4 separate regions of the Homo sapiens genome follow, and regions 2, 3 and 4 are each linked to region 1. The links come from fine-mapping of genetic effects on gene expression. A gene starts in region 1. Each other region holds a variant in brackets. All regions are shown on one strand. Distances are between the middles of the regions. Region 1 holds the start of GYG1 (glycogenin 1). Region 2 has its middle 30 kb from the start of GYG1. Region 3 overlaps CP (ceruloplasmin). Region 4 overlaps HPS3 (HPS3 biogenesis of lysosomal organelles complex 2 subunit 1).

Evidence for each region. PIP is the estimated chance that this variant, and not a neighbour inherited with it, causes the effect. A credible set is the group of variants that fine-mapping cannot tell apart.
Region 2: its variant is the best candidate, but not a certain one, in a credible set for the expression of GYG1 in esophagus muscle (GTEx, PIP 0.59).
Region 3: its variant is the best candidate, but not a certain one, in a credible set for the expression of GYG1 in non-classical monocytes (Schmiedel 2018, PIP 0.90).
Region 4: its variant is the best candidate, but not a certain one, in a credible set for the expression of GYG1 in whole blood (INTERVAL, PIP 0.87).

Annotation. Positions count from the first base shown.
Region 1 is chr3:148,988,992-148,994,576 of GRCh38, reverse strand. GYG1 (glycogenin 1) reads right to left here and starts at 3,037. Exons shown (of 8, transcript NM_004130.4): 1 at 2,930-3,037; 2 at 300-435. The coding sequence starts at 2,936. RefSeq lists silencers at 2,021-2,315, 2,349-3,398.
Region 2 is chr3:148,958,492-148,964,076 of GRCh38, reverse strand. No RefSeq gene overlaps it. Among named protein-coding and RNA genes, the nearest start is that of GYG1, 30 kb to the left of the region's middle. The variant T/G (reference allele first, on the strand shown) is at 2,535.
Region 3 is chr3:149,199,306-149,204,890 of GRCh38, reverse strand. It overlaps CP (ceruloplasmin), which reads left to right. Exons shown (of 19, transcript NM_000096.4): 7 at 2,650-2,789; 8 at 5,027-5,179. Among named protein-coding and RNA genes, the nearest start is that of CP, 20 kb to the left of the region's middle. RefSeq lists an enhancer at 5,445-5,585. The variant AG/G (reference allele first, on the strand shown) is at 2,285.
Region 4 is chr3:149,151,832-149,156,831 of GRCh38, reverse strand. HPS3 (HPS3 biogenesis of lysosomal organelles complex 2 subunit 1) reads right to left here. Exons shown (of 17, transcript NM_032383.5): 7 at 3,184-3,338; 8 at 1,617-1,725. Among named protein-coding and RNA genes, the nearest start is that of HPS3, 25 kb to the right of the region's middle. The variant T/C (reference allele first, on the strand shown) is at 2,632.

The DNA of each region.
Region 1 (5,585 bases):
CTCCTTCAGATCACCCAGAGGGGATGGAGTGAAGGAAGACGACTCCTTCTTTCCCCTCCTAGTTGGAACCAGAAAGTGTGGGCCAGCATAACACCTTCCAGAAAAGAATTGAGTTGGAATATCTCCCAAAAGCTAGGAGGAGGTTTCAAATACAGCAATCCTGCACTCAGCATCTCTCATTTTTCTCTACCCGGTGCTCAATTCCTGAAAAGAGCATGGCCTCAATGTCCAATGATGTCAGCAACAGGGAGAAGGATGTCAGAGCCCCTTGGATGCTGGGGTGGCAGCGAGGTCCTCACCTCATGGAGTCTGAGACCTGAGGGGTGGCGAGCACGACCAGCCTCCTGGTGGTCCTGTGCTGTTTCAGAGATGATCCCAGGACCAGGGCACCTTTGGCGTAGGCATCGTTTGTGGTTAGTGTCACAAAGGCCTGATCTTAATACAAAGAAAAAAAAAACACTCATTACAGTATCTTATCTGGAGAAAGCCTTTTCCCCAGGAACCCATTCAAACAGTAATTCAGCAAAACCAGTTCCTCTAACATCAACTTTCTCTATGAATCAAGCTGTAGCCCTTTGGGGAGAAAACCCCAAGTGCCCACTTCAAGAATGGTTCAAGATCATAGCAGGCACATATGGCAACCTTCAACAGGTTGATTAAGCTATAGAAATTAAATCCGACACGCTAAATTCTCAGACAAAACAATAGCTTAATACCAAGAGTTTGAACTCCAGGCAACTAACAGATGGTAATGAAGAGATCAAGTAGTACATTTGCTGTTTCTTCTACAAGGTACTGTAGACAGTGTTTTCAGACAAGCACAAAACCAACCGTCAAACTCAATTCAGTCAGTCTGAAAGCAGAGTCCATATTCTTCATTCTGGTGCTTACGTTTATGCCATGCCTCAGGAATGTATGTATGTATGTATTTTTTAAGACAGGGTCTCACTCGGCCACCCAGGCTGGAGTGGAGTGGTGTGATCATAGCTCACTGCAGCCTCGAACTCCAGGCATCTTATACATAACTGTTTCCTCAACGTGGAGCAAAAGCTCCCCTGCCCCAATATCCCTGAAAAATAACATTGAGTCTCTCCTCAAGTATCAGCTCCTCAAAGAGGCTTTCCCTCCTTGATGCTTCTATCTAAATAGTTATCAATCACTGATAAATAGATTTGGAGATCACCCAAGAAGCCCTAAACAACTGCCTGCTTTTCTTTGGAGAAGAAGGTGCAGGTCCATCCTGCACCCTCCCCCTCCCCCCGCCCAAACCAACAGACACGCACCCCAATCTCCAATAATCACTTAGTTGCCAGAAGAGAAGGTAAATACATGGATTTTTCCTCCTGCTGAACAGTCCCCACCCTCCCAAGACCCCTAGCACAGGCTTCAAGATTTCTCCAGTCATTCCCTGGGACAATTCTGGGCCATGTTCCATCTCCAAGAAACATTAGCAAGTTGGTGGGCATCCAAATGCATAGGACACTTCGGATCAAGTTCTGGTAGGAGTCAGTTGCTTAACCAGCGAGTTGGGACATTTTGTCATGAAGTCCTTCTCTTTCTGACCTGGCTTTCCCTCATTCTCCCTTGCCCGTTTTCCAAGGTGGAGGCTGGAAGCAGTAGAAATTCCACCGAGACATGAGAGGAAGTTGTGGGTTGCCTAGTGGGCCAGCGCATCCCTCGGCTGCTGACCTGAGAGCCATCTTCACACATTTTATTAGGCCCTCTCCCACGGCAGGCCAACTACTAAGTTGTAGGAAGACCAGTTCCCCACCCCCGAAGGGCCACCAGCTTCCCAGTCACTCACACTCTAGGAAAGCTCTGAACAGTGGCACCTGTCCCTTGACAGGCCCATCAACATCCGCCTGTACTTGCTTCTATTATCTTCAGCCCATTATAACATGGGTAACATCGCTGTCAATCTGTACCAAAAATACTTAAGCTAGGCAAAATGAATGATCATCTAACTCAAATGAAGTCCAGGTTCCAGGCGATCATGGAGAAAAATGTAATAAGGTGAGCAGGATTCAAGGATTTCTGGAAGCAAGGATATGGATGATTTCCAAGATTAAATAAGGGATAGAACACAGGTTAGAACACCAGACTAGCCAACATTACAAATGACCAAGAAAGACCAATGACAGCTGGGTAGGAGTTTAATCTTCCTAAAGACGGCTGAACTCTGGGTTACACCTGCAATCTTTGTGGCAGTTCAACTGCTGTAATAACCCTGGCTATTAGCCTCAATGACACGGAAGGACCAGCTAACTCGGAGCTTCCCAGTGCTGGGGCTAACTCGTGGAGTGGCCCGGACGCCTCGCAACAAGTGAAGCCAAAGCCGGCGCCCTCCCACCAGACGGGGCTCGCGCCCGGGGACGCTAGTCCGACTCCCGGCTTCCCGCAACCCGGCCCCAAAGGCCTAAAAATAGGCTCAGCGTGGCGGCCGGGGCCGGGGCGGGCGGCGGAGGAGCCGGGCGGAGGCCGCAGTATCCCCGCCTCGGAGCCCCTGCTTCCTGGGGTTCCGGGCCGCCAGAGGCCGGGGCAGCTCCCCACGATGCCGCTGCGCCCCGGACTCCCGCCTGGAACCCCCAGGGGAACCGGCTCCCCACCCCCACACGGCCCCGCCGCAGCTGCTCCGCCCGCCGGCCCTTCGCCGTGAGAGCAAGAGGAAGGACGAGGAGACGGAAGCAGGAACGAGAGCTCCGGCCGAGGGCCCGGGCTCTGCCCGGCTGCCCCATCCCTGCACTCTGGGGGGCGGCGGGGCGGCAGCTGACGCAGGCAGAAACACGCCCGGCTGCGGCCAGCCAGCAACTTTGCGGCGGTTTCGTCCTGCCGGGAACACTCCGGGGCTGAGGGCGGAGGAGAAGGGAGGCGGCGGCTGGGCAGGAAGCCGGGGTCCCGGGGCTGGCGGCGGCGGGCTGCGCGGCGGTACCTGTCATGGTGCTGCCGGGTGCGCAGGCGGCCGGGGCAGCCTCAGGTTGGTGACTCAGAGAAGCCGGCACCGGGAGGGAGCGCGGCCAGCGAGGAGGCACGGCGGGGAACCGAGCGTCTGCCCCGTGCGCTCTTATAGCGGCCGTCACGTGGCCGCGCACGCTCTCGCTGCCGTCCGCATCCTCCCAGCTGCGCGGCCGGCAGGGGCGGTGGCCCGCGGGGCTCCGGGTCCCGCGTCTCCCTCGGCTCCTCCTCCCTCCCTCGGGGCTAGGCTGCCGCTGCGGCTGCGGCTCACCGGCGCCCCTGCTCCTACTTCCCCGGGGCGCCTGCCCTTGTCAACCGCGCGCCCCCTGTCGCCGCTAAACCTGGGAGTTAAGGGGGACTTTGGGGCTGAGTGCGGCATCAAACTCCCCAAGAAGCCAAGGGTTAGGGAACCTTAAAAAACAAGCAAACAAACCCCAGATTACTCTAGTTAAAATCGTGAGTCTGAACTGCTTGAATGAAACGTAAAATTTACGCTTTTTTTGCAGAATTTCGATCAGCCTCTATAATCATTCCTTAGTGTACTCACAATGGTTTTGTACCCTTAACCTAAAAAATATAGTGAATATTTCGTAAATGTTAAATTCTTGGAGCCATCTGCATCAATTAGGCATTTAAGTGCTTCATTTAATCCTTGTACGAACTCAGTGAGGTGTTACATATTCATTTTACAGACGAGGAGGAAACTGAGCTCAGAAAAGTTAAATTAACTTTTCTTTTCTTTTTTTTCTTGTATTTTTAGTAGAGACAGAGTTTCACCATGTTGGCCAGCCTGGTCTGGAACTCCTGGCCTCAAGTGATCTGCCAGCCTTAGCCTCCCAAAGTGCTAACTTTTCTATAGTCATATAATATAAATGGAGAAAGTAGGATTTAAACCCTGGCAGTTTGGTTACAGAATCAACCTTCCCACCCAGAAAGTCTTGGTGCCTCTTGTACACAGGGGCTCCAAAAAGGTTAGTAAATTATTGTAACTGTGGTTAGCCAATGCTAACCTGTTTCACAAATCTTGAAATGGTCAATTTGTCATTTTTCTAGGAAGTTGAGAAATAGCTTTAATGTGATCACATCCTTCTCTGCTCCCCATCCCCAGTCCAAACACAGAACAAGCCTCGGGTAGTTCAGTTCTCTGCAAACTGAAAACTGAAATTGCTCGGTAAATGTTGAATGAGTACTGCAAAGCCATTTGGAAACCAATCAGGAAGTTGACATCAGTTCAAAAAGCAAAACAGATGCTTAAGAATAAGTGATTTATTTGCAAAGGTGGTACTGCTGTCCTCAAACCAGTTATATCACTGTTTCCTCGTGTGTGGGTGTGGATCTCCTACATCAGAATCACTTGGGGGCACTGGTTAAAGCGTAGATTTTTGGGCCTAAGCCCAGACCTCCTGAATCAGAATCTTAAGGGTAGGTTTATTTTGGTGCAAAATAATTTTGAAATCCATGCATTTTTTTTTTATAATATGTATATTCTATGGACTTTTTGAAGTCGCGTCATATACTCTTGAGGTAATGAAATACTCTGTAGGCATAATCATTATATATTTTTAATATAAAAAGCTGTTCAAAATATATTATTTGAAGAAAAACAGGTTACAAAACAAAAAGAATCTTAAGGGTAGAACCTTAAAATCAGTATTTTAAATATCACCTTCCAGGAGCCTCTCTTGAGTCCTTCCTAGTCTTGACCATGGCCTAGAGACCGCTGATCACATGGGAGGCCCTCCCAGTTACTTGGCATTATGTGCTTCCGTTGTAGGAAACAGAAAAGTGGAAAGGGCAATAGATGGGTTTCCACTTATTCAAAAGATATAGACATAGAAGAGTTGGAGCTCTTTAAGGAACACAAAGGCTACACTTTTGTATCTTAAGTGGGGAGAGGGAAAACAAAGAGAGGTACTTCTCAGTCTGATTGCTCTTTTGCAGACTGAGAGGTGAACTTGGAAGAGTGAGATTTCCATCTTTCACCCAGAACCCTCCTGCCATCAGCTGACCCTTAACCATCTACTTCTTGCAGCCTACTATCTCAGGCTGGACTTAGCCAGGGATGTGGTGATGGGGCTGAAAGGGCAAAGCCAGGAGGTAGAACTGGGGACAACTGGGAAAAACAGAAAAGCTTCCCTTAGAACAAGCTCCTCTCTGCTGCAACTCCCAGGACGTTTAAGTAAAAGGAACGGTTACCACAGCTTCCCTTCCTGAGCTTCATGTATATTTACACAAATAGAAAGTTTACAGCTTTTACCACTTTGAATCAAATAGGGACATTTTGAGGTTGCTACAATCTGTTCTTCTTCATTGTCTTAATATAGATCATAATGACCCCACTGCCTACTTTTCCTGAGGCTGCCCTGCAGTGAGCTTCAGTCTGGTGTGAGAGCAAGACCTCTCAAACTTTAATGCGCACACAGATTGCCCAAGGATCTTATTAAAATGCGGATTCTGACTCAGTAGTTTGGGGGTGGGTCTCCCAGGTGATCCCCAGGCTATGGACCCACACTTTGAATAGTGAGGTGTTCAAACATTTTGGATTGTAAGGCCTTAGAGGTAGTGGATAAACATGGTATAGTGAGGCAAATGTTTCAGATTTTAGCTTGTTATTTTTTTTCTTGTGAAACTTG
Region 2 (5,585 bases), 30 kb after region 1:
ACATTTTGTGTGTGTGTGTGTGTGTGTGTGTGTGTGTGTGTGTGTGTGTGTGACTTAGTGCTCCAACTGTTAAAGAAAGGGGATAGTCTGTTTCTGGCTGGGTCACACAGTGTAGGCTAACATGTGTCTTAGTCTGGGCTTCAAGGTTGAGAGTGATTACACAGAGTATGGCACAATGCGGGGAGGCCACTGGAGTTGGAAAGGTGGGAATGGATCATAGGGTGATGAGATTTGGTCCAGATTGAGGCGGGGGTGGGCTAAAGAGCTTCTGCTTTATCCTACAGCTAATGCTAAGCCATTTTTATGCAGGGAAAGAAAAGATGTGATAAAAGCAATGCTCTAGGAAGATTAATCTGGAAGCTTAGTAAAGTAATTGGAGCAGTTGAAGATGCAAGAGGCTGGAAAGCCAGTTAGGAGGCTCATGAATAATCTGGATATAAAGTGACTGGAGGCTGATTTAAGTTGAGAGAGGAAGGGGAAGTAGGGAAGGGATGATTTTAGAGAATCATTGTTTAGAAAAGATAAGCAAATGTAGCTGGATGAAAGAAAGGTGGAAGGAGTAAAAGATACTGTAGTTTACCTGCAGTTTCCAACCTGGAGGGGAATAAGAACTGGGAGACATGCCTTGCCTCCCATCCCACCTTGCTCACTTTTCTCCAGCCACACAGGTCTCCTTGCTATTCCTTAAGCAAAGCAAGCATCACCCCTACTCAAGGCCTTTGCACCTGTCAATTCCTCTGTTCTGAACATTCTTCCTCCAGAGACCCACCTCCCTTGCTTCTTCACTTTCAGCCCCTACCTGGCCCTCTCCACTCATTTATGCCTGTAAAAATGGGCATTTTCAATTAATACACTATATTTCAAAATGTTACTTTTCCTAAAAATTCTTGCAGGTTCATAGAGATAGGGAGCTTAAGCTATAGAGATGGCTAAAATGTACCCTGGTTAGAAAGACTTCCCTGACTATATCCTTCCTGACGATATATCATATATTAAGTCATTTTTTTCTGACTAGCATGTAAGGGTGTATGGACAAGACTTTGTCCTTTTTAATGGCTTTATCCTCAGCACCTAATACAGTGCCTGGCACATAGTAAATTATCAATAAATATGTGTTAGTTAAATTAGTGAAACAGGCAAATTCAAAAAAGAGGCTAATTTGGGAATTGAGGGGGAAGATTATGAGTTAGCTTTAAATTCACATCATCCTAAAAGACAACATTTTTTGATATTGGCAAGAGGTCAAGGCTAGGAGTGCAGCTTTGTGCCTTCACAGGTCTAACTTCTTTATGAGCATCAGCACAGCCTCTTGTGGACAGCGCCCCTCCCTGGGGGTTATCTCAGTGTTTTTCCTCTTGCATTAGGAGTCCTTTTCTTTCCCTGTGTGACTCATCTCCTCCTGGGTAGAGGAGGGGAGGACAGCCTTGGGATAAGGGGAAGTATCAAGAAGCTGCTGAGCCTATGAGAGGACAACCCAGAAACCACATTTCCTCTCTTAAGCTCCCCATCATATAACTAGTCAATGCTTTCTAGACACTCCAGATATAATTATTGGGATGATACACTACAAACTTTTCAAAATGTATTTGACATAGCCTGTAATAATCCAAATGAGAACAGAGACAACAAGAAGGCACACCTGTAGCTCATTTGTTTCCGCTGTTTCAATTGCTCTAATTCCCCTTTTCCAGTAGCCCATTAGGATCACCTGCCAAATTGACTTATTTAATGAAATTTCTGATGTACATTCATGTGTTTTCTAAAATAATCTCTTTAAGAAAGCACATTTTTCCTTCTCAAATGCAGTTCTGCCTTTTCTTGATAGGAACCCCATTCTAACATCACTACTGACTGTATTGAAATGAATGAATACATTATAAAGCACTTTATCTTTATTGCTGCCTGAAGTGGAGAATATAATTGCCAGCTGTGTATCCCAGGCACATAATTCCATTACTAGGTTCTTACGGAGCCATCAGTCCCATGGATGGTCCTTTGCTTGACAAACCAGCCCATCAAATTCCAAATCTGCCTTAATGGCAAATGCCACCTCTCGATCAGGTCACTGCTCCAGCCTGAATTCAGCAAATGTTACCAGAATACTTACCCTGGGGTACCCACGCTGCTCTTAGTTACGGGGTGCCTATCTTGCTCTTAGTTCTGCTCAAAAAAGCTTGTCATGCTTGAGGTCACAGCTTTTGGTCAAGGGTCCTTCCAGGATGAAGCTGATCTACGTTTTCTTGGACTGTCCACAAACATCCTTAACAGGTGCTAACTCTATTTTTAAATACTCTAGCAATATTTGTATGGGGAGCAGGGGCCAGCCACTATTCGGAAGTGGGCTGGTGAGGATTTTGATAGTGTTTTGGCTTTTTTGTGTTGGCTGGGTGGTGACACAGTTTCTTCAGATATCTTTAAATATATCATAGTCTACCAAATAAAGATTAGTTGAGGTGTGTGGGTTGGGGAGAAAGTGGTTAAGAAAACTTTTCTGCCAGCATACAAACTACCCTGGCTTCATACTTTGCTCTAAA[T/G]TTCTGTGTAATCCCAGGGTTTTAGAGGTAAACCTGTACGGATCTCCTATCTTACACAAGAGGGATGAGCACTCACATTTACTGAGGCCACATGAGGGCTTGGCGCAGTTGGGAGCTTTTCATTTACTCTCTCAGTTGGCTGATGAGGAAACTGCTGGTACTTTTGTCCTAGCACACAAAGAATATAACCATCCTGAAGGAAAGAGAGTTTTGATTAAAGAGGGGAGGGTGAGAGAAGGAGTAACACTGGGGCAGGGCAGAGGATGGTATGCATGGATGGGTTTGCTGGAAGGAGAGGAGGACTCAGGAGACCCGGTGGTAGGAGGGTGATATGAAGAGGAGGGTGGCCCAGGATACACTGAGCACACTTTTGCACGTTAGTGGAAGACACTGGAAGTACAATGTCTGATACAATTTCTGGGCTGCCTTTGCCACAATATTCCAGGTTGCTGATATCTGCTTTCAAGGTAAGTTTGTCTGATTAGAATCTAGAGAAGTGTTTGAGAAAGCAAAGAGGGGTGAAAATGTTATTACTATTATTTTAGTGGTGGTAATCATTACCACCTGCTGAAAGCTTAATATGTGCTACAAACTGCTATGTGTATGATGTATCTTACATAAGTTAATTTTTACGAAAAACTTGGAGGTTGGTGTTCTTATGCTTATTTTAGAGGTGGATGAACTTTCTTGGCCAGATTCTCACAGCAAATGGGAGATCTGGGATTTGAATGCAGATTTGTCTAGCTCCCAAATTTATGTGATGGAATATCAAATAAATAACTTAATCTCTACTCATAAAACATGGATTCCATATCCCTTTTAGAACCATTTTTATGTGATTCAAGCCAATCCAGAGCATAACAACACTAGAAGATATAATAGCAGTAAGATAAACTGCCTCTTTAGCTATTTCCAAATTCATGGTCTCAATTAAGCCTTTTTCACATGTGCTGGCCCTTGTAATTCCTGATGTACTTTTCCTAATTCCAAATGTCTGGTAACAATTTATGATGTATAATTAAATGGGCTACCCTCCTTTTATCACGCCTTCTAGATATAGTCCCATCACATGAAACAAAGCGAAGCAAAACACTTCTTTGATTTAATGTTGACAGTCTCACATTCTCATTCTTATTAAGCTAATAACATTTAAAGATGATACTGAGGCTCTTTAATAATCCAGCAAGAAGAAAAATACAATTAGGCAATGATATGGTTTGGCTGTGCCCCCATTCAAATCTTGTCTTGAATTCCCAAGTGGGAAGGGAACCTGTGGAACTTGTGGGAGGGACCTGGTGAGAGGTAATTGAATCATGGGGGCAAGTCTTTCCTGTGCTGTTTTCGTGATACTGAATAAGTCTCACGAGATCTGATGGATTTAAAAAGAGGAGTTCCCCTGCATAAGCTCTCTTTGCCTGCTGCCATCCATGTAAGACATGACTTGTTCTTCCTTGCCTTCCACCATAATTGTGAGGCTTCCCCAGCCATGTGGAACTGTAAGTCCAATTAAACCTCTTTCTTTTGTAAATTGCCCAGTCTTGGGTATGTCTTTATCAGCAGTGTGAAAACAGACTAATACAGGCAATATCAGGGCAAATAAATACATCTTGGGAAGTGGTAGAAAGGGGAGGAGAAAAGAGATCAGGATTGAGTAAATGCCATGACTAACTAGGTGGGGCAGATTTTACCCGCATGAAGAGAGGTGCAAGGGCCCATGTTTATCTGAAACCCACCTGCTCAGTGGAAACCCTCCAAAATTTATTCCCATGTAACAATGGGCATTCTTAACAAGAGGCATAAGGCTATATCATGTTGGTTAGAAATCCTAAAGAAGAGTGATGCTGTGAGGAAGTAGGGTAACAAGCTGGTTTCTGGGTCTGGTCAGCCTTCTCTGTGAGGGGCCCTGAGGATATTGGTGGACGTGTTCAGGAATAAGAGGGTTCTGGGGCTGAGAGAAGAAAGGGAGCACAAAGGAAACAGCTAAGACTTTATTTCCGTGGGCTTTCTTGAAGGTCAGTCTGGGTAGAGTTCCAGAGATAAGCTCACTTTTGCTCTACCTTCAACTTAGAAAATTAAGAAAATGCCAGTCACCATGGAGGCCTCTGGGAAATGCCATGCTTCCCTATGAAGGCAGCTTACCTCTGCCCTGGAGGACTCTACTTCTATAGTTTTTCTTTTTTCTTTTTTTTTTTGAGACTGAGTCTCGCTCCATCACGCAGGCTGGAGTGCAGTGGCAGTGTCGGCTCACTGCAACCTCTGCCTCCCGCCTCCCGGGTTCAAGCAATTCTCCTGCCTCAGCCTCCCAAGTAGCTGGGATTACAGGAGCGTGCCACCATGCCCAGCTAATTTTTGTATTTTTAGTAGACACAGGGTTTTGCCATGTTGTCCACTCTCGAACTCCTGACCTCAGGTGATCTGCTCACCTTGGCATCCCAAAGTTCTGGGATTACAGGCATGAGCCACTGTGCCCAGCCTGCTTCTACACTTCTTAAGGAAGAGGTTGCTTGTTTGTTTATGTATATCTATTTATGTATTGATATCTTCTACACTCCTTATTTACTAGGAAAAACTCAGTTTTCTTGGTATGTAACTGGAAAGTGTGCAACGGGGAAAATGTGGCTGTTTATAGCCCTCTGACCTTGAACATGTTACCAAAGCAATTTGTGTTTCAGCTGCTTCCTGTATGAAGTGGATCTCATAGGCAAATATAGAAATGATACATTCTTCATTGAGAAACATCACATCACTGTCCTCTTATGTAGATGAAAGTATTTTTACCATATGGCTCCTCCTTTCATTGTTAACAACCTGCTCCATCAGGAGAGAGATAATGAATGCAAAGAAAAAATACTTTTTCCACTCTAAAAGTCCATTCAGATTCAAAAGTCCTTACAAATACCTGTGTTAGAGGAAGAAACATCCACATCCCCATGCTGCATTTGGAGTGTGTTTTCTGTTTGTTCTGTTCTCAGTAGGGAGAACCGCTTATTACTGTCCTAGGCATGAGCCTTTTATATACTTGAAAACCGTCGCTAGCTCACCCTGTAACCT
Region 3 (5,585 bases), 210 kb before region 1:
GTACACAAGCTACTCTTTGTACATGTCTGAATGACTTCCACAGCCTCCCAGTCATTCTTTCTGTTTGTCTTCCTTTTCTACTATCGATTTTTTACAAAGCAGTACTGTGATCTTTCAAAAATGTCAATGAGATGATGCCACTCCCCTGCTCCAAGTCTTTACTCATATATCACTTCCTCAGAGAAGCCCTGTTTGCCATCCATATTAAAAATACCCTCCTTGGAAAGGTTAAGTAATTCATCCAACATCACACAATAAATGGATAGCTAGGACTTGCTCAGCCCAGACCTGTGACTCCTGAAGCAGAGATTTAAGTCCCATGCTACACTGACACCTACATGTGATTACTCCCAACGCTGCGTCTCCAACTCAGGAGGATCTAGTGAATTTCAGATTGCATTTCAAACTTCTTAGTGACACCCCCACATGGATGAGGCTATTCAAACTCCTCTCCTCATCAAGTACTGCCTTGTTTTATAGAAACTATCTCTGAAGGCTGTCTACTTCTCTCCATCTTCTTTGCCAATACCTATGAACTCATCTCTGCCTCTCACTGAGATTAGAAAAGCAGGCTCCTGACTGGTCTCCCTACTGCAGTCTTGTATTTTCCAACACATTCTCCAAACATCTGCCAGAGGGATCCTCCTAAAATGCTAATCCTGAATGCTTAAATCTTTCAAATGCTTCTCACTGCCCTGGGATGGAAGGCTGAAACCTTAACTAGGTCCTACTGCTTATCTCCCATCTATCTAAGCCTCATTCTTCACTCCTCTGCCCTGTCTTGCATGCTATGCTTCTGCCATATTTTCTAGAACATGGCATGCTCGCTCTTTTCTCTAAGCCTGCTCATAAGCAGTTTCCTCTTTGTATACACCTGCCCTAGTCTCTGCGCTACACACACACTTCATCTTGCTAACTCTACTTCCCCTTTAGGTAGTTTTGAGTAATCACTTCCTCTGGAATGTCTTTGTGGCCTCTTCACTGCACTTTCCCCAACCTCAAAGAAATGCTCCATAATACCCTGTGCTTATTACACTGTATTATATTGATGGGTTCATGGCCTGTCTTCTCTGCCAGATGTAAGGTCCACGTGGACAAGGAAGAGTCCACCTTGCTTATGGTTAAGTCATCAACACATAGCAGGATTCCCAGCAAAGAGCAGGTGTTTGATGCATTTGTCAAGTGAAAGAAATGATGAATGAGGTGGCTTTGCGCAAGTCAAATAATTACCTTTCTGAAATTTAATTTCTTCGTTTGCAAAATAGGGAGAATAATACCAACTTTGTTGCGATGTCATGTGAGTTTCAGCTAATAAACAAAAGCTCCTGGCCAAGCGCCGTGGCTCATGCCTGTAATCCCAGCACTTTGGGAGGCCAAAGCGGGTGGATCACTTGAGGCCAGGAGTGCGAGACCAGCCTGGCCAACATACCAAAGCCCCGTCTCTATTAAAAACCAAAAAATTAGCTGAGCATGGTGGCATATGCCTGTAATCCCAGTTATTCAGGAGGCTGAGGTATGAGAATCACTTGAACCAGAGAGGCAGAGTTTGCAGTGAGCCAAGATCACACCACGGCACTCCAGCTTGGGCAAGAGAGCGAGACTCTGCTCCAAAAACAAAAAATAAATAAATAAAAGCTCCCGAGCAGCTGGCCAGTGCTAATACACAATAAAGAGTAGCCACTGGGGCCGGGCGCAGTGGCTTACGCCTGTAATCTCAGTACTTTGCAAAGCCGAGACGGGCGGATCACTGAGGTCAGGAGATCGAGACCATCCTGGCTAACACGGTGAAACCCCGTCTCTACTAAAAATACAAAAAATTAGCCGGGCGTTGTGGCGGGCGCCTGTAGTCCCAGCTACTCGGGAGGCTGAGGCAGGAGAATTGCTTGAACCTGAGAGGTGGAGGTTGCAGTGAGCTGAGATGGCACCACTGCACTCCAGCCTGGGCAACAGAGTGAGACTCCACCTGAAAAAAAAAAAAAAAAGGCCAGGCATGGTGGCTCATGCCTGTAATCCCAGCACTTTGGGAGGCCGAGGCGGGCAGATCATGAGGTCAGGAGATCGAGACCATCCTGGCTAACATGTTGAAACCCTGTCTCTACTAAAGAAATACAAAAAATTAGCCAGGCATGGTGGCAGGCGCCTGTAGTCCCAGCTACTCGGGAGGCTGAGGCAGGAGAATGGCGTGAACCCAGGAGGCAAAGCTTGCAGTGAGCTGATATGTGCCACTGCACTCCAGCCTGGGTGACAGAGCGAGACTCCATGTCAAAAAAAAAAAAAAAAAAAA[AG/G]ACAAACAACAACAACAACAACAAAAAACTAGCCACTGTGTTTTTAAACATTTCACAATTTGATAAAAAGATTCTATGGTAGAATCCTTTGTCAAGGGGTTGAAGGGGCCCTTCTGAAAATTTTCTCTTCACTTGAAAAAATAAACATCCTCCATGATTCTCTACTTCTTAACTGACCATCCTTCTATGAGTGGACTGGAACTGTCTGCTTTGTTTGAGTAACTGGTACGGATTGCTATAAATCATGGATAATATTCATCTCTAAGCACTGGTCAGAATTTTTCTCTTCAATTAGCACCTTAAGTGAATACCTGCTTTCTGTTCTACTTCAACCCCAGCATTAAACACTTTTTTCCCCCTGCAGTGACTCAGCGGTGTTTTTTGAACAAGGTACCACAAGAATTGGAGGCTCTTATAAAAAGCTGGTTTATCGTGAGTACACAGATGCCTCCTTCACAAATCGAAAGGAGAGAGGCCCTGAAGAAGAGCATCTTGGCATCCTGGGTGAGTTCTTGCAGAATATATATGGCTGGTTTACTCTTCCCATGGGCTACATCAACCTCAGAAAGAATAGTAACTTCAGGACCTACTGCATGATTTCTATGTGTTAAGTAGGCGTGTGGAAGATAAAACAATAAAATGCAGCAGCTAAGTACTTTTCCAAATGTAAATTACCAATGGTAAATTTTCATCATTAAAAGCCCTGCTGACGGCCGGGAGTGGTAGCTCACCCCTGTAATCTCAGCACTTTGGGAGGCTGAGGCGGGCAGATCACTTGGGTAAGGAGTTTGAGACCAGCTTGGACAACATGGTGAAACCCCATCTTTACTAAAAATACAAAAATTAGCAGGGCGTGGTGGCACGTACCTGTAATCCCAGTTTCTTGTGCCTCGATGCTGAGGCATGAGAATCGCTTGAACCCGGGAGGCGGAGGTTGCAGTGAGTCAAGATCGTGCCACTGCACTCCAGCCTGGGAGACAGAGCGAGACTACATCTCAAAAAACAAAACAAACAAACAAACAAAAACCCATGCTGACCTGACTTCAAATGGTTATTTTTTTCTTCAAAGAGGTAAGGGGAATTGTGTGTTGTGTGTTTATGTGACTTGGTTTAAATAGATAACTAAGTTGTGAGCCTCTGCACTTAGTTAAAGATGTGTTCCCTTAGAAATAAAACCCAGGCTAGGGCCAGGCGTGGTGGCTCACGCCTGTAATCTCAGCACTTTGGGAGGCCGAGGCGGGCGGATCACGAGGTCAGGAGATCGAGACCATCCTGGCTAACACGGTGAAACCAGTCTCTACTAAAAATACAAAAAAAATTAGCCGGGCGTGGTGGCGGGTGCCTGTCCTAGTTACTCTGGAGGCTGAGGCAGGAGAATGGCGTGAACTCGGGAGGCGGAGCTTACAGTGAGCTGAGATCTTGCCACTGCACTCCAGCCTGGGTGACAGAGCGAGACTCCGTCTCAAAATCAATCAATCAATCAATCAATCAATCAATCCCAGGCTACTAATGAAACAAGCAGGATCTGTCCTAGAGCCCTCCGCAGGCTGCCCCCAGCCAGAGTCCAGAGACCTGTTCTCGCCAAGGCACGCAGGCAGAATAACAGTGGGTGAGCAAACAGAGTATGGATTCAGATTGTCCTGGTTCTTCACTTTTTTTTTTCCTAGCGGTGACTCAGAGGTATAATACTTTTTGAACAAGGTATTACAAGAATTGGAGGCCCTTATAAAAAGCTGTTTTTTTGTGAGTACACAGTGCATACATTAGCTGTGTGACCTTTGAAAGTTACTCAACTTGGCTGGGCGCGGTGGCTCATGCCTGTATTCCCAGCATTTTGGGAGGCCGAGGCAGGCAGATCACTTAGGTCAGGAGTTCGAGACTAGCCTGGTCAACATGGCGAAACCCCATCTCTACTAAAAAAAAAAAAAGTACAAAAATGAGAATGGCGTGGTGGCGAGTGCCTGTAATCCCAGCTACTGGGAGGCTGCGACAGAAGAATCACTTGAACCTGGGAGGCAGAGGTTGCAGTTAGCCAAGATCATGCCACTGCACTCCAGCCTAGGCAACAGAATGAGACTCCATCTCAAAAAAAGAAAAAGAAAAAAAGAAAATACTCACTGTCTGTCCCTGCTCCCTTCTGTAAAATGGGAACAATAGTTATTAAAGTTGGTATAGGGATTAAATCAGTTAATAGACATACACTCAGAAGAACAGATAGGAAACTCTCTATAAATGTCATTTTGTATATTACATAAAATATTTATGTAAAATATATATTTTTATTCTATAATTGGTAATCATTAATTTTGGTCATGGAAAATCCAAAACAGTGTTATCCTTCACATCCAAAACAATTCAACTTATCTGCTTTGGGTGGTCAGAGTTTATAGCACCTAACTCTTGGGACAAATGACACACCTCCAGCCAACAGAAGATTAGGCTGAGGAGTCTCAACATTCTGAATAGTTTTTGTAGATGTGTAAAGCTTACTAACTGACTTGTACAAAAATGATAATCAATTTCATTAATCTGAAGTTGAATTAAAAAGCCCTTCTCTCCTTCCAACCTCGACATATCAGATTGATTATGGACTTCTCAAAAACCAAGCTTTCCATTCACCACAAATAAGCGTGTTGCTCCTAGTAGTTCTTGCCAGAGAACACAGTCAAAGAAGATAACTATCTTATACATTCTGCATGTTACATACCAAGGAAGGATAATAATTCTCTCTTTGTTCCCAGGTCCTGTCATTTGGGCAGAGGTGGGAGACACCATCAGAGTAACCTTCCATAACAAAGGAGCATATCCCCTCAGTATTGAGCCGATTGGGGTGAGATTCAATAAGAACAACGAGGGCACATACTATTCCCCAAATTACAACCCCCAGAGCAGAAGTGAGTATACAGCACTGTGTAACAAATCAACAATGTTTAATAACCCACTGTACTGGTCACTGACAGTATGCTGCAAAAACTGAAGGCAGGAACTCCCAAGGAAACCGCTCATATATCATTTCTAGGCATCATGCCAGGAAACAAATAAACCCCTTCTCCTACCTCCAATTGGTTTACGGAATTTTGTCCTGCCTTAATTGGATGATTATTGACAATCCTGATAGTAATTTAGTTGGGTTGTATCAATTATACATTTCTGGAGTACCTTGGGTGATTTTTAATTTTTAAAAAAGTTCTTATAAGAATGTTCGATGTTCACTTTAGAATATTTGAAAAATATAGAAAGGTAGCAAAAAATACTAATTATCCATAGTTCTATAAGCAATCGCTCTTATATTTTTATATA
Region 4 (5,000 bases), 160 kb before region 1:
GTCAAATCACCTAAACGAAGACTTTCAATTAAGCAAGACTGAAAAGACAGGGCACAGCTAATATAATAATTGGCATTAAATTATTGGCAGGGACAAATCAGGCAACACCTTGACCTGATGACCAAAAATTAACATCACCAAAGAGGGGTAGATGAACAGCATGTGCCTCCAGATGTGATACCCTTAACACAAAAATCACCTATGCAATATTCTGGCTGAAAATGCATAATCTGAATCTAACCATTAAAAAAAAAAAAGCAAACCCTAAATAAGGAATACTCTCAAAAAAAAAGTAGAGGGGAAAATTATATTTTTCAAAAATGCTCATGTCATAAAACATAATGAAAGGCTATAGAAATATTCCAGCTTCAAAGGAGGCTAAAGAGACATCATAGTTAAACACACTACCTGATCCTAGACTGGGTCTTGAACTGGAGAAGGGGAAATGCTATCAAGCCATTGGGTCAGTTGACAAAATTAGACTATGAACCATAAACCAGATAAAGCACTGTGTCAATGTTAAATTTATTAAAGCATACTACTGTATTCTGGTATGCAAGAGAGTATCCTTATTCTTAGAAAATATACGCTGAAGTACTTAGGGGCAAAAGACTGATGTATGCAGTTTACCTCCCGAAGAAGAATCAGAAAACAGTGTATGTATATCTGTGTGCACAGAAAGCACAGAGTGCATAAAAGAGAGAGAGAAGCAAATAGGGTAAAATGTTGACTGTGGAGAAATCTGTGTGGGGAATGGGAATATATAGAATATTCTTCTTTTTTAAAAAAGAGTCAAAAGAGTCAGGGTCTTGCTGTGTCACCCAAGCTGGAGTGCAGTGGTACGACCATAGCTCATTGTGGCCTTGAACTCCTGGGCTCAAGTGATCTTCCCATCTTAGCTTCCAAAGTAGCTAGGACTACAGGTATGTGCCACCACAACTGGCTAATTTTTTAATTTTTTGTACAGATGGGATCTCACTATGTTACCCAGGCTAGTCTCGAACTCCTGGCCTCAAGCAACTCACCTGCCTCAGCCTCCCAAAGGGTTGGGAAGAATATACTTATTCTTGCAACTTTTCTGTAAGTTTGAAATTGTTTCAAAATAAAGAGTTAAAATAATTGCCAGGGATGAGTAGGAAGCTGTCACTCTTAGATCAGTAAGGATGCTCCCTCTGGGTCCCTCCCCCCAGGACAATGCTGCAGTAGCTGTGGTGCCCTGGGACAATGTGCTAACATTTCTAAATAAGAAGAGTGGGACAGGGATACATAATCCTAGATTTATTTATTTATTTATTTATTTGCTCCATTTCTTAGCTATCTTTGCTAGAGTTCAAATTAAGGTCAAAGACTATGTTCAGATTGGCCAATCGATCTTCTTAGGAGAGTGGGTATGAATAAGGGAGTCTTATGCTAGTGAAGGGAATTTCTACTGGTTCCTCGGATGTCAGAAGCTGTAACAATGAGGAGGCAGAGAGAGATATACATTCCACTGTCAGACAGAGCCAGGAAGCTGAATGGCTGTGGCATCCTGAATGTATGATAATTAGAATCAATTTCTGATCATTAATTTCACTCTAAATATCTACAAACAAGAATCAGAAGTTTGAAAAGAGTACCATCTCTTTGTACAGCTGCACTGGTGAGATCGTATTCACAATATACAAATTCCACCCAGCCTCAGCTACAGGAGGTATTTTGATTTTAACACTGGTATCTTTTCTCGAACTAAAAGCAAAACAAAGGACAAGAATTTTAAAATGACATTATTAATAAATGGTAGTTGTAAATGGTAAATATTGGATATAAAATAACTATAAAATCATTTTCATTTACTATTTTCCTCAGTGATTAACTGTACACTCTATTTCTATGGAATATTAGTTCACAATACTACATAGGCTAACTGCATTTAATATTCTGTAATTTTCATGTAATGATAAACCAACTGCTTCCAATTCACTCTGCAAGTATTCTCAAATGAGCAGTAAGTTCAAAGAACAGGCAAGTCCCATCAAGAGGAAAAGATCCTTGACTGCGGAAGTCCCTATACCCAGGCTCTTTTCTGCATTTGACTTTCATGAGTCTAGCATGCCCTGAGCCACAAATCTAAGCAGAAGCAACATCATGGCTGCTGAGAATATGATGAAGACACATAAAACTGTTAAGTCTGCTTAAAGCACTATCTTATCTCTTGCTTTCACTATGTGATACATTTTCTTTAGTGTACAATCTTTTATAATTGTTTATCAAATGAATTTTCAAATGAATTAGAATTTTTAAAACATCATTTAAAAAATTATACTATTAGAATGTCAAATGTGCAAGACTACAAACTGCTTTTCCTCTCCCCAGAAAGCTTTTAGGATCAGTCAGCCCCAGACCACTCTGTGTACACTCAAAGTGATCAGTTACCAAAGTCAACCTCTGATTCCTGTTGATGCAACAAAGCACAGCCACTAACAATTTGAAAAAGTAAAAATCTATGTTAAAAATAACCCATGTTTGATATGAAATACACTATATGCTTCACTCCCTGAAGAGATTTCTTTCTTGATTAAATTTTCCTTAGAGAAATTAGATTGCATTCTCTACCACTAAGTAGGAAAACATCAAATAGAAGCATAACTAGTC[T/C]GGAATTAAGCATTCTATTCTAAACAATGGGAAAGCAGAAACCTAATAAATAACAAGAGATGAATGTTATCAAAATACAACTTTATTTTCAGATACATGAGCACATATCTATAGATCATAAATGTGCTTTAAGGTAAGACATACATTATTAATTTCTTTCATAATATCAGAAAATAATTTTAGATAAAAATGTAACAACTGAAAGGGTCAAAGAAGAAAGACAGTAAAAAGTCCTGTAGTTTCAATTAGCATTATAGGCTCAGTCTTTCTCATTAATTACACAGAAAAGCATGGCCTTTAACTAATCTAAAACACCTTTGATTTTTACTGAAACTATTTTATAATCCATTTTCTCCTAAAAGTTTCCAGGTCAGTTATAAAGTGTATTACAGAGATTGTTAGAACCTTCTTTTCTTTCTCTGGAAAAAGACCACCATAAAAAAGCCATTTGATCATTCCAAGTTATGATTTGAAAAAAGATAAACACAAAATATACCAGTTACAACTCATTCCAGAAACTGGCAGGAATGCCTGGGGCAAGGGGATGCTTACAGAAGCCTCTTGGGTGACTGTCTTCTCTCTGGAATGGCTTCAGGTTCTGCTTTAGTCAAAAGTATGATGTGGTTTTTAAAGTGACAGATGGCTTTCAAGCCTATGAAAAGCTGTATTCTTAAAGCACAGACATCCATACTGACAGGTGGGCAAGCCTAGTAAAGGAAAATCACATATTTAAGCAAGAAATAAAGGTACATGCACTTCAATCTTCAAAAATCAGTCAGTTTATTTGATCAAATCTCTTCTGCTGCCACCATCCCATACCCACCACCACCAAAAAACAAACAAACAAACAAAAGACCAACCCAGATTCCTATTCTTAACAGAAGAGGTTATCTAAACCTATGTAACCAATAGTGTATTCCATAGAGCTACTCAGCCAACAAACTCAGTTATTGATTGATTGAATAAATACGGAAAGAGGGTCCCACAGCTGCAGGAACTTGTGTGTGTGCCCCACAGAGTGGCTCCACAGATACCTCCAGGAGATGAAGCTGGTACTCTGCCACCCAGGGAAACCCCCACAACTAGCAGGATGGTTGGGGGTACGCCCAAATGGGGTTTTTAGGAAAAACCAGACACTATGAAAGGACATTCTACTGCTTGTAGAGTACATAAAATGGTTTCTTTGCGGATGTGTGTGTGAAAGAAATGCTTGTATGTTCCGATGGCCCCTGACTGTTAGTCTGTTAGGTACGAATAGTGCCTGGAATGGCGGACAGGCTGGGACATGTCAGGTAAACTAGAGGAGCCAGCCTTTTGCTCTTGTAAAGGACCATTAATTCAAGTAGAATGAATAAGAAAACTAATGGAAGAGCTCTATTCTGGGAGCTCACAAAATGATGCTGCCAGGACCCTGCCTTCTTGTCCATGCATGCTGTTTTGATTCTGAGGTCATCTTCATTGTTACCTCCATGTAAAAATAGTTAAGGTGGCTTGGTTAGTGCTGAGGAGTCAGAATCTCAGAGGAAAAGGAGACAGACCACAAGCACTTTCAACCAGACTCTTGAGGTTGTGAAACTTTTTTCAGACATCACAGCTCCAAAGCCTGAGTCAGCAGGTGGGCTAAACGTGTGCTTGTTTAACTGGCACCTAGGGCTTCAGAACTGGTGGAGTCCCAGGAAAGGAGGAACCGTGAGGTGTGATTATGCCTTCCCCCTCCTACCTCCACTGGCCTCAAGGGCAGCATACCTCCACCAGATGCCCACCTCTCCTTATCCCTCCCCTTTGTCTCTTCCTTGTTCCTTCATTCTGCCTTTTATAAGACTCTGAAAATACATGGAATTATTTTTTTTCCAAAGGTACATTGATCCTACTTCAATCTATTAGGTACTTTAAATTACACCATCACCCCTATATAAGCCTATGTCTTTCTGAGGTTTGAAAACGCAAGGAGGGGAAAGAAGAGGACAAAGAATGGAAGTTTTATTTTTTTAATCTGTTACTTTTCTATTTTTACAAAGGAAATAATCCTGATTTTAAAGTAATCTCTCAAAAAGGCCATGTGTGTATCTTATACAAACAAAGGCACAGGAAATCTGTGGTTCTGGTTTCCCAAGAGGCTGACAGCAGGCAGTAAGCCTGGTCAGCAACAGAAAACCACAGGCAGGCCATTAAAAAGGGTCACTAGGAACTCAGAGACCATGCTTGCCATAAAACACTATCATATGACACAGTTTGGGTGACAGTGACCGTGAAAGAGTATCTCAGACACATTAGGCACTAAGTCGGGGCTGGCTTGTTAAGATAACCACCATTACTGAAGGCTTATCCTTCTGGAAAAAGGTATTCCAGTTTCCAGACAGATATAAACC